Linked DNA regions of Homo sapiens. The protein of the gene in region 1 interacts with the protein of each later gene in a pairwise test. Each region holds a gene or a part of one and is shown in the gene's direction. Other genes may lie near its edges.

Region 1 (5,190 bases):
CCTTTTTGTCTAGCATTGCAGATGAAGTCATTAAGACCTGAGGGAATGGTGTTCTGGAGGCCTGTGGATTTTGTCTTTGACCTTGATTCAGCTTGATTAAGCCTGGCACCTGCAGGAACAGGCCTGGAGGGTGCAGGGAAAGAAGAAGATAACTCAATTCAGAATCAAGCACGTTCCAATATGTTAAAGCATTCCACTTTGTAATCATGCTTACATGGTTCCATTATTCTTGTAAGTTGACCACATTTGCATGCCCCTGCATGTATCATGGCTGGCGAAAGCGTGCCAGCAGCCCCTAAGTGAAGGCCTGGGTACAGAGGATTCCAGTAAGAGCAAATCCAAAAGTAAGAGTCTGAGTTCTCACCGTCTCCAGCGTAGAACTTCAGTGTCATGTACTTTTGTGGTATTCTTCCCATTTTACGAAAGCACAAGCATTGCGTTTCCCTCCCTTGGCCAGAGTATTCCTCTCTTGCTCTTGCCTCTGTTCATTTCACCATTATCCTGTTGTCTTTCTTAGCCTTCTGCCTCTCCTCCAGACACACCAGTCTTTTTGAGAGAGGGTCTTGTCTCTGTCGCCCAGGATGGAGTGCAGTGGCGTAATCTCGGCTCACTGCAACCTCTGCCTCCCAGGTTCAAGGAATTCTCGTGCCTCAGCCTCCTGAGCAGCTGGGATTACAGGTGCCCGCCACCACTTCTGGCTAATTTTTATATTTTTAGTAGAGATGGGGTTTCTCCATGTTGGTCAGGCTGGTCTCGAACTCCCGACCTCAGGTGATCTGCCTGCCTCGGCCTTCCAAAGTGCTGGAATTACAGATGTGAGCCACCATGCCCAGGCCAGACACACCATTCTGTAATGTGATTACATTGCACATAAGGAACTTTCGCCCTCAATTCTTGGGGGCAAAGATGTCATCTTTCTTACGGGGGTGCCTTGCATATACTTTTTTGTCTCTGGGTTTTGGCCCAAGTTAGCACTTTTATTTCTTCTTCTTTTTCCTCCTTCTTCCTTCTTTCTTCTTTCCTTCCTTCTTCTAACTTCTTTCTTTCTTCCTCCTCCTCCTCCCTCTTCTCCTCCTCCTCCTTCTTCCTTCCCCTGCTCCCCTTCCCTCCTTCCTTCTTCTTCTTTCTCCTCCTCCTCCCCCTCACTTTGTCATCCAGGCTGGAGTGCAGTGGTGCCATCTCAGCTCACTGCAGCCTCAACCTCCCAGATTCAAGCAATCCTCCTGCCTCAGCCCCTCAAAGAGCTGGGACTACAGGTGTGCAGCACCATGCATGGCTAATTTTTGTATTTTTAGTAGAGACTGGGTTTTGACATGTTTCCCAGGCTGGTCTCGAACTCCTGAGCTCAAGCTATCCACCCACCTCTGCCTCCCAAAGTGCTAGGATTACAGGTGTAAGCCACCTGTGCCCAGCCTATTTCATCTTACTGTATACTTCCGGCAACTAATGGCAACCCCTTTCCTAAGTATAGGTTGCCAGTTAGAAGTTCTACAGAAACTTGAAAAACGGAGAATTGTGTTGGCATCAGCAAACCAAGAATCAAAATGTTCAGTAGAGAAATGAAAGTTCTGATAAGTTGCAGTAGGTGTCTTTGTTTTTATTCTAAGAACAGGCTAATGTCATGGTTCCTTCTTTAGTCCCATATAGAAATCATCCGTGGCCATGCAGCCTTCACGAGTGATCCCAAGCCCACAATAGAGGTCAGTGGGAAAAAGTACACCGCCCCACACATCCTGATCGCCACAGGTGGTATGCCCTCCACCCCTCATGAGAGCCAGATCCCCGGTGAGTCATACAACAGGTACTCATTAACAGCAGTCAGGAGTTTACTGTTGCTTTCAACCTGAAAAGCCATGCCAGGGGATCTGCCTAAACCAGTTCTCTCTTTGGAGCCAGGCCATGGGAGAAGGTCTCTGCAGAACCTAACTCCAGTTGGCTTAGTGGTAGCTAGTGATGCAGTCGCCCAGGCTGGAGTGCAGTGGCACGATCTTGGCTCACTGCTACCTCCGCCTCCTGGGTTCAAGTGATTCTCCTGCCTCAGCCTCCCAAGTAGCTGGGACTACAGGCATGCCACCACCACACTTGGCTAGTTTTGGTATTTTTAGTAGAGATGGGGTTTCATCATATTGGCCAGGCTGGTCTTGAACTCTTGACCTCAGGTGATCCACCCACCTTGGCCTCCCAAAGTGCTGGGATTGCAGGCCACCGTGCCCAGCCAAGAGATTTCATTTGGCCCCAGGCTCAGACATATTGCAGGTAACAGAGGGAGAGAAATCAATGAAAGCCTCATTCTTTCCTTCTTAGCTTAGCATACATTGTTTCCAGCCTCAGTTTGTCAGACGGGTTGTTATTTACAAGACACGTGATAATTTATTGTTTTGTTCAAGAGAGAGAAATCTTGTAAGGATGTAGCTTGAGTAGCTAAGTGAGCTTTTATATGCATATTTTTCTCTTTTAAGTAGAGACTTATAGAAGATTAAAGCTGTAAGGAATCTCAGAGATGGTCATAACTTCTTTTGCATTTTATTTTATTATTTATTTATTTATTTATTTATTTAGAGACAGAGTCTGGCTCTGTCACCCAGGCTGGAGTGCAGTGGCACAACCTCAGCTCACTGCAACCTCCACCTCCTGGGTTCAAGCGATTTTCCTGCCTCAGACTCCCGAGTAGCTGGGATTACAGGTGTCCGCCACCACGCCCAGCTAATTATGTACTTTAGTAGAGACAGAGTTTCACCATGTTGGTCACATGGGCCCACCTCGGCCTCCCAAAGTGCTGGGATTACAGGCGTGAGCCACTGTGCCCGGCCTATTATTTTATTTTATATTATTTTATTTTTTTGAGACAGGGTCTTGCTCTGTTGTCCAGGCTGGAGTGCAGTGGTGTGATCACAGCTCACTAAGGCCTTGACCAGGACGTTTAGATGGGAGATGGCTCAAGCGATATCTTTCTTTTTTCCCAGCTAGATTATAAGGACTTTGTGGATGGTGAACATAGTTTATACATCTTTTGAATTTTCCATGGATTAGCTTCATAAGATCCATTATCAAGGTGAATTTTTTTTTTTTTTTTTTTTTTTTTTGTGAGACAGATTCTTGCTCTGCCACCCAGGCTGGAGTGCAGTGGCGCAATCTCCACTCACTGGAACCTCTGCCTCCCGGGTTTAAGCAATTCTCCTGCCTCAGCCTCCTTAGTAGCTGGTACTACAGGCACATACCACCATGTCCAGCTAATTTTTTTTGTATTTTTAGTGGAGGTGGGGTTTTGCCACGTTGTCCAGGCCAGTCTCAAACTCCTGACCTCAGTTGATCTGCCCACCTTGGCCTCCCAAAGTGCTGGGATTACAGGTGTGAGCCACTGCACCCGGCCAAAATGCAACATATATATTTTTTTGTTTGTTTGTTTGTTCAGAGACAGAGTTTTGCTTTTGTCACCCAGGCTGGAGTGCAATGGGAGGATCTTGGCTCACTGCAACCTCTGCCTCCTGTGTTCAAGCAATTCTCCTGCCCCAGCCTCCTGAGTAGCAGGGATTACAGGCATGCGCCACCACACTCAGCTAATTTTTGTATTTTTAGTAGAGACGGGGTTTCACCATGTTGGCCAGGCTAGTCTCGAACATTTGACCTCAGGCGATCTGCCTGTCTTAGTCTCCCAAAGTGCTGGGATTATAGGTGTGAGCCACTGCACCTGGCCTAATATATTTAATAACTGATGAGAAATGAGGGTAGGGGGGCTACAGAGAGAAGGAATCAGCAGTTGACAACTGAAGGCTTTGTCTGCATTATTGGGAGCAGGTGGTAACTGAAGTGGTAAACTTGAGAGAGATATGGGTTGGAAGATAAAATTAAGGTTCAGTTCTAAATAGACTAAGTTTGAAGCCAATGTAAAATTGTGTGGCGAGATAGTTAGAAACATGGAACTGCAACCTGGGGAGAAGGTCAAACCTGGAAGAATGCATCTGGAAGTCCTGCAAGATAGGACCTGCTATCCTATATCCAAAGGTTTCAATCTCCTTTTCACTACATGTATATTTCACTATATAGGTTGTACCTCTTGTAATTCAATGTGTACACCATATAGGTTGAAACCTTTGAAAGAATAAGCAGAGAGGAAAGGGCCACGTCGATTTTTTTTTTTTTTTTTTTTTTTTTTTGGAGACAAAATCTTGCTCTGTTCCCAGGCTGGAGTGCAGTGGCACGATCTCGGCTCACTGCAACCTCCACCTCCCAGGTTCAAGTGATTCTCCTGCCTCAGCCTCCCAAGTAGCTGGGACTATAGGTGCGTGCCACCATGCCCAGCTAATTTTTGTATTTTTAGTAGAGACAGGGTTTCACCACGTTGGCCAGGCCACATAGATTTTGAACTACATAGAAATTTGTCTTTTCAGGCAGGAACGGTGTCTCACACCTGTAATGAGCTGAGCCCCAGGGTTCCTACCTGCCCTTGGGGTGGGAGGGTGAACAGATCCAACAGAGTCTGTTCATGACCACTGAGATCTTCATTCTTCAGAGAAATGTAAAAGTTATTTAGCCATCATGGCTTCTGTTTCTAGAGAGAAAATAAAAATGTTAACTCAGGGAGGATTTGGTTGGCAGCTTTCCAAGCAGAGACTTTAACAAAACTTGTCAAAACGGAGACTATGTTGGCTGTGAAAGTGTTTGGTTTTTGGCATAAAATGTTGTGATTACTTTGCAAGAGAAAGAGCAGTCTTGTGTGATCTATGTTGCCTTTTTCTACATAGGTGCCAGCTTAGGAATAACCAGCGATGGATTTTTTCAGCTGGAAGAATTGCCCGGGTAAGCCAACCTGACCTGACCTCAGTGACTCATTCTTCCTTACTGTCTCCTGGTAACTTTTCTTCGTCTTCTCCTCCCAAGCATTTAATGTAGGCCTTTCCTGAATTCCCTCCTCTTACAGCTTCTCTTTTCATGACCTTGTATATCTCATTCCTAGAACTCCTCAGTAGATCCCTCAAATCTTTCATGCTTTCAATCAGAGGCCAAAGTCAAATGCAGGGTAATTTGAAGACTGCATAGCAAAGTCCTAAAACTGTCTTCTTTCTTCAACTTAATACAGCATCAATTAAGAATGTGTCTAAAGTAGCTTGTATTTTAGAATAGAATAGCTGGTTTTGGCCAGATGTGGTGGCTCATGGCTGTAATCCTAGCACTTTGGGAGGCTGAAGCGGG
Region 2 (3,726 bases), on another chromosome or scaffold:
TTCATACTCCTCGTTATGACCACTCTTTCTTCCCACCAGTAGCAGCCACTAGGAAGGAGAAGCCAATTAGCAACTGGGTCACAGCCTGAAGTAACCTCATCCCCCTTTTCTAAGGGCCTTTAAAAAGGACACTGGCTGGGTGTGGTGGCTCACGCCTGTAATCCCAACACTTTGGGAGGCCGAGGCGGCGGATCACCTGAGGTCAGGAGTTCGAGACCAGCCTGGCCAACATGGAGAAACCCCGTCTCTACTGAAAATACAAAATTAGCCAGTTGTGGTGGCACATGCCTGTAATTCCTGCTACTGGGGAGGCTGAGACAGAAGAATCACTTGAACCAGGGAGGCGGAGGTTGCAGTGAGCCAAGATCGCATCATTGCATTTCAGCCTGGACAACAAGAGCGAAACTCCATCAAATAAATAAACACTAATAGCCAGACATGGTGGCTCCACCTGTAATCCCAGCATTTGGGGAGGCTAAAGCAAGAGGATTGCTTGAGCCCAGGAGTTAATGACCAGCCTGGGCAATATAGGGAGAACCCCGTCTCTTTAGAAAAAAAACAAAAATTAGCTGGGTGTGGTGGCATGTACCATTGGTCTCAGCTACGCAGGAGGCTGAGGTGGGAAGATCGCTTGGGCATGGGAGGTCGAGGCTGCAGTGAGCCATGATCACTGCACTCCAGCCTGGGTGACAAAGCAAAACTCTGTCTCAAAAAAAAAAAAAAAAAAAAAGTCACTCTCATTCAACCACTTTTACTGCACACTAACATTGGGTGGTTGGATGGAATGGGAGACAGAAAGAAGCATGTGGTCTCAGGCCTCACCTGCATCTCCAGCGTATGAAATAGAAATCCGGAGATACACTGGTTGACGCGTCACGGAGGTCAGCCCTGTTCCCTTAGTCCCCAGGGCACCCCACAAATGAGAGGGTTCTATGAGATGTACTTTGAAAACCACTAACTTAGGGCAAGAGGGGCCAGGAGGCATCATCTGAAAAAGATTTGGAAAAAGGGGAAATCTGCCTGTGCCGGGTTAATTCTGGCCCTGACCCAGCCTTCTCCTCTTGCCCCTGGGATCCTCCTTGGAGAAGCAGAGGCAGCATTTTTTTTTTAACCATCTGTCTCCAAAGTGGGGTCATCCTGATTTAGGGACACAAAATTAGGTAATGTCTGACCTTTGGGCTTAGCCTGGACCATATCCTTTTCAGCCCAGTACCTGAGGCCTCAAGAAGGAACTCAACTCCCAGCACCAGGTCACAACCACCACCTGGTGTTGGAAGGGGATCACCACACTCCTTGGCTGTGGTGTCTGCCCCAGGCAGGGAAAGTAGGCAGTGGGATTCAATAAATGTATCAAGCAACAGCGAGCACCTTCCTGCTCCGTGACTGTTCTTGGCCCCTCTAGCAGTCCTCAGATCTTTAGATCGGCCCTCGCAGGGTCAGCAGAACAGGCAGCCGTGAAGGTGAGGGGCATGGAGGAATCTGTTGCCTGGCTGAAGGGCCCTCAGATTAACTACTGTGCCCCCAATGATCTCCTAGGAGCTTTGCCTGACAAGGGGGATCTGATGCACGACCCAGCAATGGATGAAGAGCTGGAACGGCTGTAAGTGTCAAGTGGGAGGATACTGCCCCCTTGTGGGGGCCAGACGGGTCGGACACGGCTGTGCCCCATCTGGGGCCAACACCACTTGTCTGTAACATCCCACATCTGCCAGGGAAGGGTCTGGGGGCCAGTGGAGGCCTGAGGTGTCCCTCCCTCTGAGTCCTTTGGGGGCTGCAGCCCAGGGGTTTACCCTAGTGTTAAGAGTGGGCATGGAGGCCCTGCTCTCTGTACAGGAGGCCTCTCGCTGCCCTCCAGGCTTCTTCCCTTCTTCAGGCTGGCCCAGGTCCCAGGCCTGGTCAACTCGGTCACAGCCAGTCCAGAGGCCAGTTGCCTGCCTTCCCGGACCCCTCCCCGGGTTGGCTCTCCCTGGAGACCTCTCCATCATTCCCGAAAAGTGGATGGAGAGAGTGATGGCTCCACTGAAGAGACAGACGAGTCGGAGACTTGAGGAGTCCAAAGGGTCCTGCCCACAGCGCCCTGTACCTGCTCCCACCCAGCCCTTGGTGTGCCCACCCAGCCTCCTCTCCAGCACCTTGCTGTGCTGCCCTCTGCTGCTGACAAGGTGAATAACAGCCCCAAGACCAGCCAGAGGGGCTCTGATGATCAGCCCAGCCAGTGGCCCCGGAAGGTGAATGGCCTGCTCTCCCTGGCCCTATCAGCCTGTGAACTTCACTTAGGCCCCAAGCTGACAGACTGTGCTGAGGCCACCTTGTCACGCCGTAGCCTGTTAGTCCTCCTAACCTCTTAAGAGCAGTCTCTTCTGAGCCAGCCTCTGCGGGTCCCCCAATAAGGTTCATCTCCTCACAGCAACTCCATTAAGGGGGAGAACCCGAATAGCCACGCAGGGCCTTGCACCATCAAGGGTGACACCTGCGACGCAAGTACCAGGAGGACATAACCGCTGTGGCCTGTTGGAGAACAGCCAGTAGCCTTGGTAATATGAAGGGTGGGCCAGAAGATGATTTCACTTGCAAAAACTGCTTCAAGTCTTGACCCCTTTGTGTCTAATAGCTAAACAAACATGTGAAACGAATAAAAAGTCCCTCATGTCTGGTAACTGGTGAGTCTAAAGCTCCTAGGCTGAGGGGAGAAGGGAGAGGGGGAGTTTGGGTTTTCGGTGCTTTTCTGGTAGGACTAGGAGGTAGGCCAGTGGCCCACTCAGACCTGGGGACCTGCCTCAGACAACGAGCAGAGGGGCCTAGCTTCGCACAAGAGCAACCTTCCAGAGGAAAAGTGCTCACAGCTGGAACGGCCTTCAGGAAACAGGTTCAGAGGGTTCAAGGCCAGGTTCCCATAACTTTAAAGACCGTGGCCATAAAGGGTTAATACTGCACAGCCTTCCAGCCAGGGTTTCAGTCAACATTTGCCAAGCACCTGCTTGGGGTTAGAACAGTGGGATGCAGCTGTGAAAGACAGACAGACACAGCCTGGGGCAGACACATCCCAGCCAAGACTGGAGGCAGGTAAGGACGAGTGTCTTCAACTTCTTTGGATTGAGGGCTGAAGGGGCGGGGTCCCCCAGAAAGCAAAACCCACCCAGAAGCCCAAGCAGAACAGGACTGCCTCCTCTGAAGGTGGATGTCACCACTACTAGGCATACACATTTCCTTGGGCTCATCCCTACCCAGAACGGATCATTACAGGAACTGCCTCCCAAACCCCTGCAGAGCTGAGGCCAAGACTAGGCATTCCAGCCCCGAAGCTGCTCCAGGATGCAGTGGCTCATTGCCTGTAATCCCAGCACTTTGGGAGGCCAAGGTGGGCCAACTGCTTGAGCCCAGGAGTTCAGGACCACCCTGGGAAACATAGTAGGACCCTATCTCTACAAAATAACCTTAGCCAGGCATGGTAGCTTGCACCTGTAGTCCCAGCTACTTGGGAGACCCGAGGTAGATCACTTGAACCCAGGAGGTTGAGGCTGCAGTGAGCCATGATCGTGCCACTGCACTCCCGTCTGAGTGACTGACAGAATGAGACCATCTTAAAAAAAAAAAAAAAAAAAAGCTCAGGCTGCGTGATGAGCTCTGTAGGCCCACAATGATGCACAGCCCATAAGAGACATGGTTCTCAAATCCTGGTGTCCTCAGAATCACAGGAAAGCCTACTGACGATGCAAATTACCAAGC

The links. The genes of interacting proteins can lie anywhere in the genome.
Region 2: the proteins of GSR (region 1) and CSTPP1 interact in a two-hybrid assay, tested with the Homo sapiens proteins (one large-scale study listed by BioGRID and IntAct).

Annotation. Positions count from the first base shown.
Region 1 is NC_000008.11:30,699,688-30,704,877, reverse strand, and holds part of GSR (glutathione reductase, mitochondrial isoform 1 precursor), read left to right. Parts: intron 1-1,637; coding exon 1,638-1,785; intron 1,786-4,742; coding exon 4,743-4,797; intron 4,798-5,190. UniProt on the Homo sapiens protein: Catalyzes the reduction of glutathione disulfide (GSSG) to reduced glutathione (GSH). Constitutes the major mechanism to maintain a high GSH:GSSG ratio in the cytosol.
Region 2 is NC_000011.10:47,159,591-47,163,316, forward strand, and holds the end of CSTPP1 (centriolar satellite-associated tubulin polyglutamylase complex regulator 1), read left to right. Parts: intron 1-1,536; coding exon 1,537-1,600; coding exon of another isoform or gene 1,601-1,604; exon of another isoform or gene 1,605-1,855; coding exon of another isoform or gene 1,856-1,873; coding exon 1,874-2,048; 3' UTR 2,049-2,657; downstream 2,658-3,726. UniProt on the Homo sapiens protein: Regulator of the tubulin polyglutamylase complex (TPGC) that controls cytoskeletal organization, nuclear shape, and cilium disassembly by balancing microtubule and actin assembly.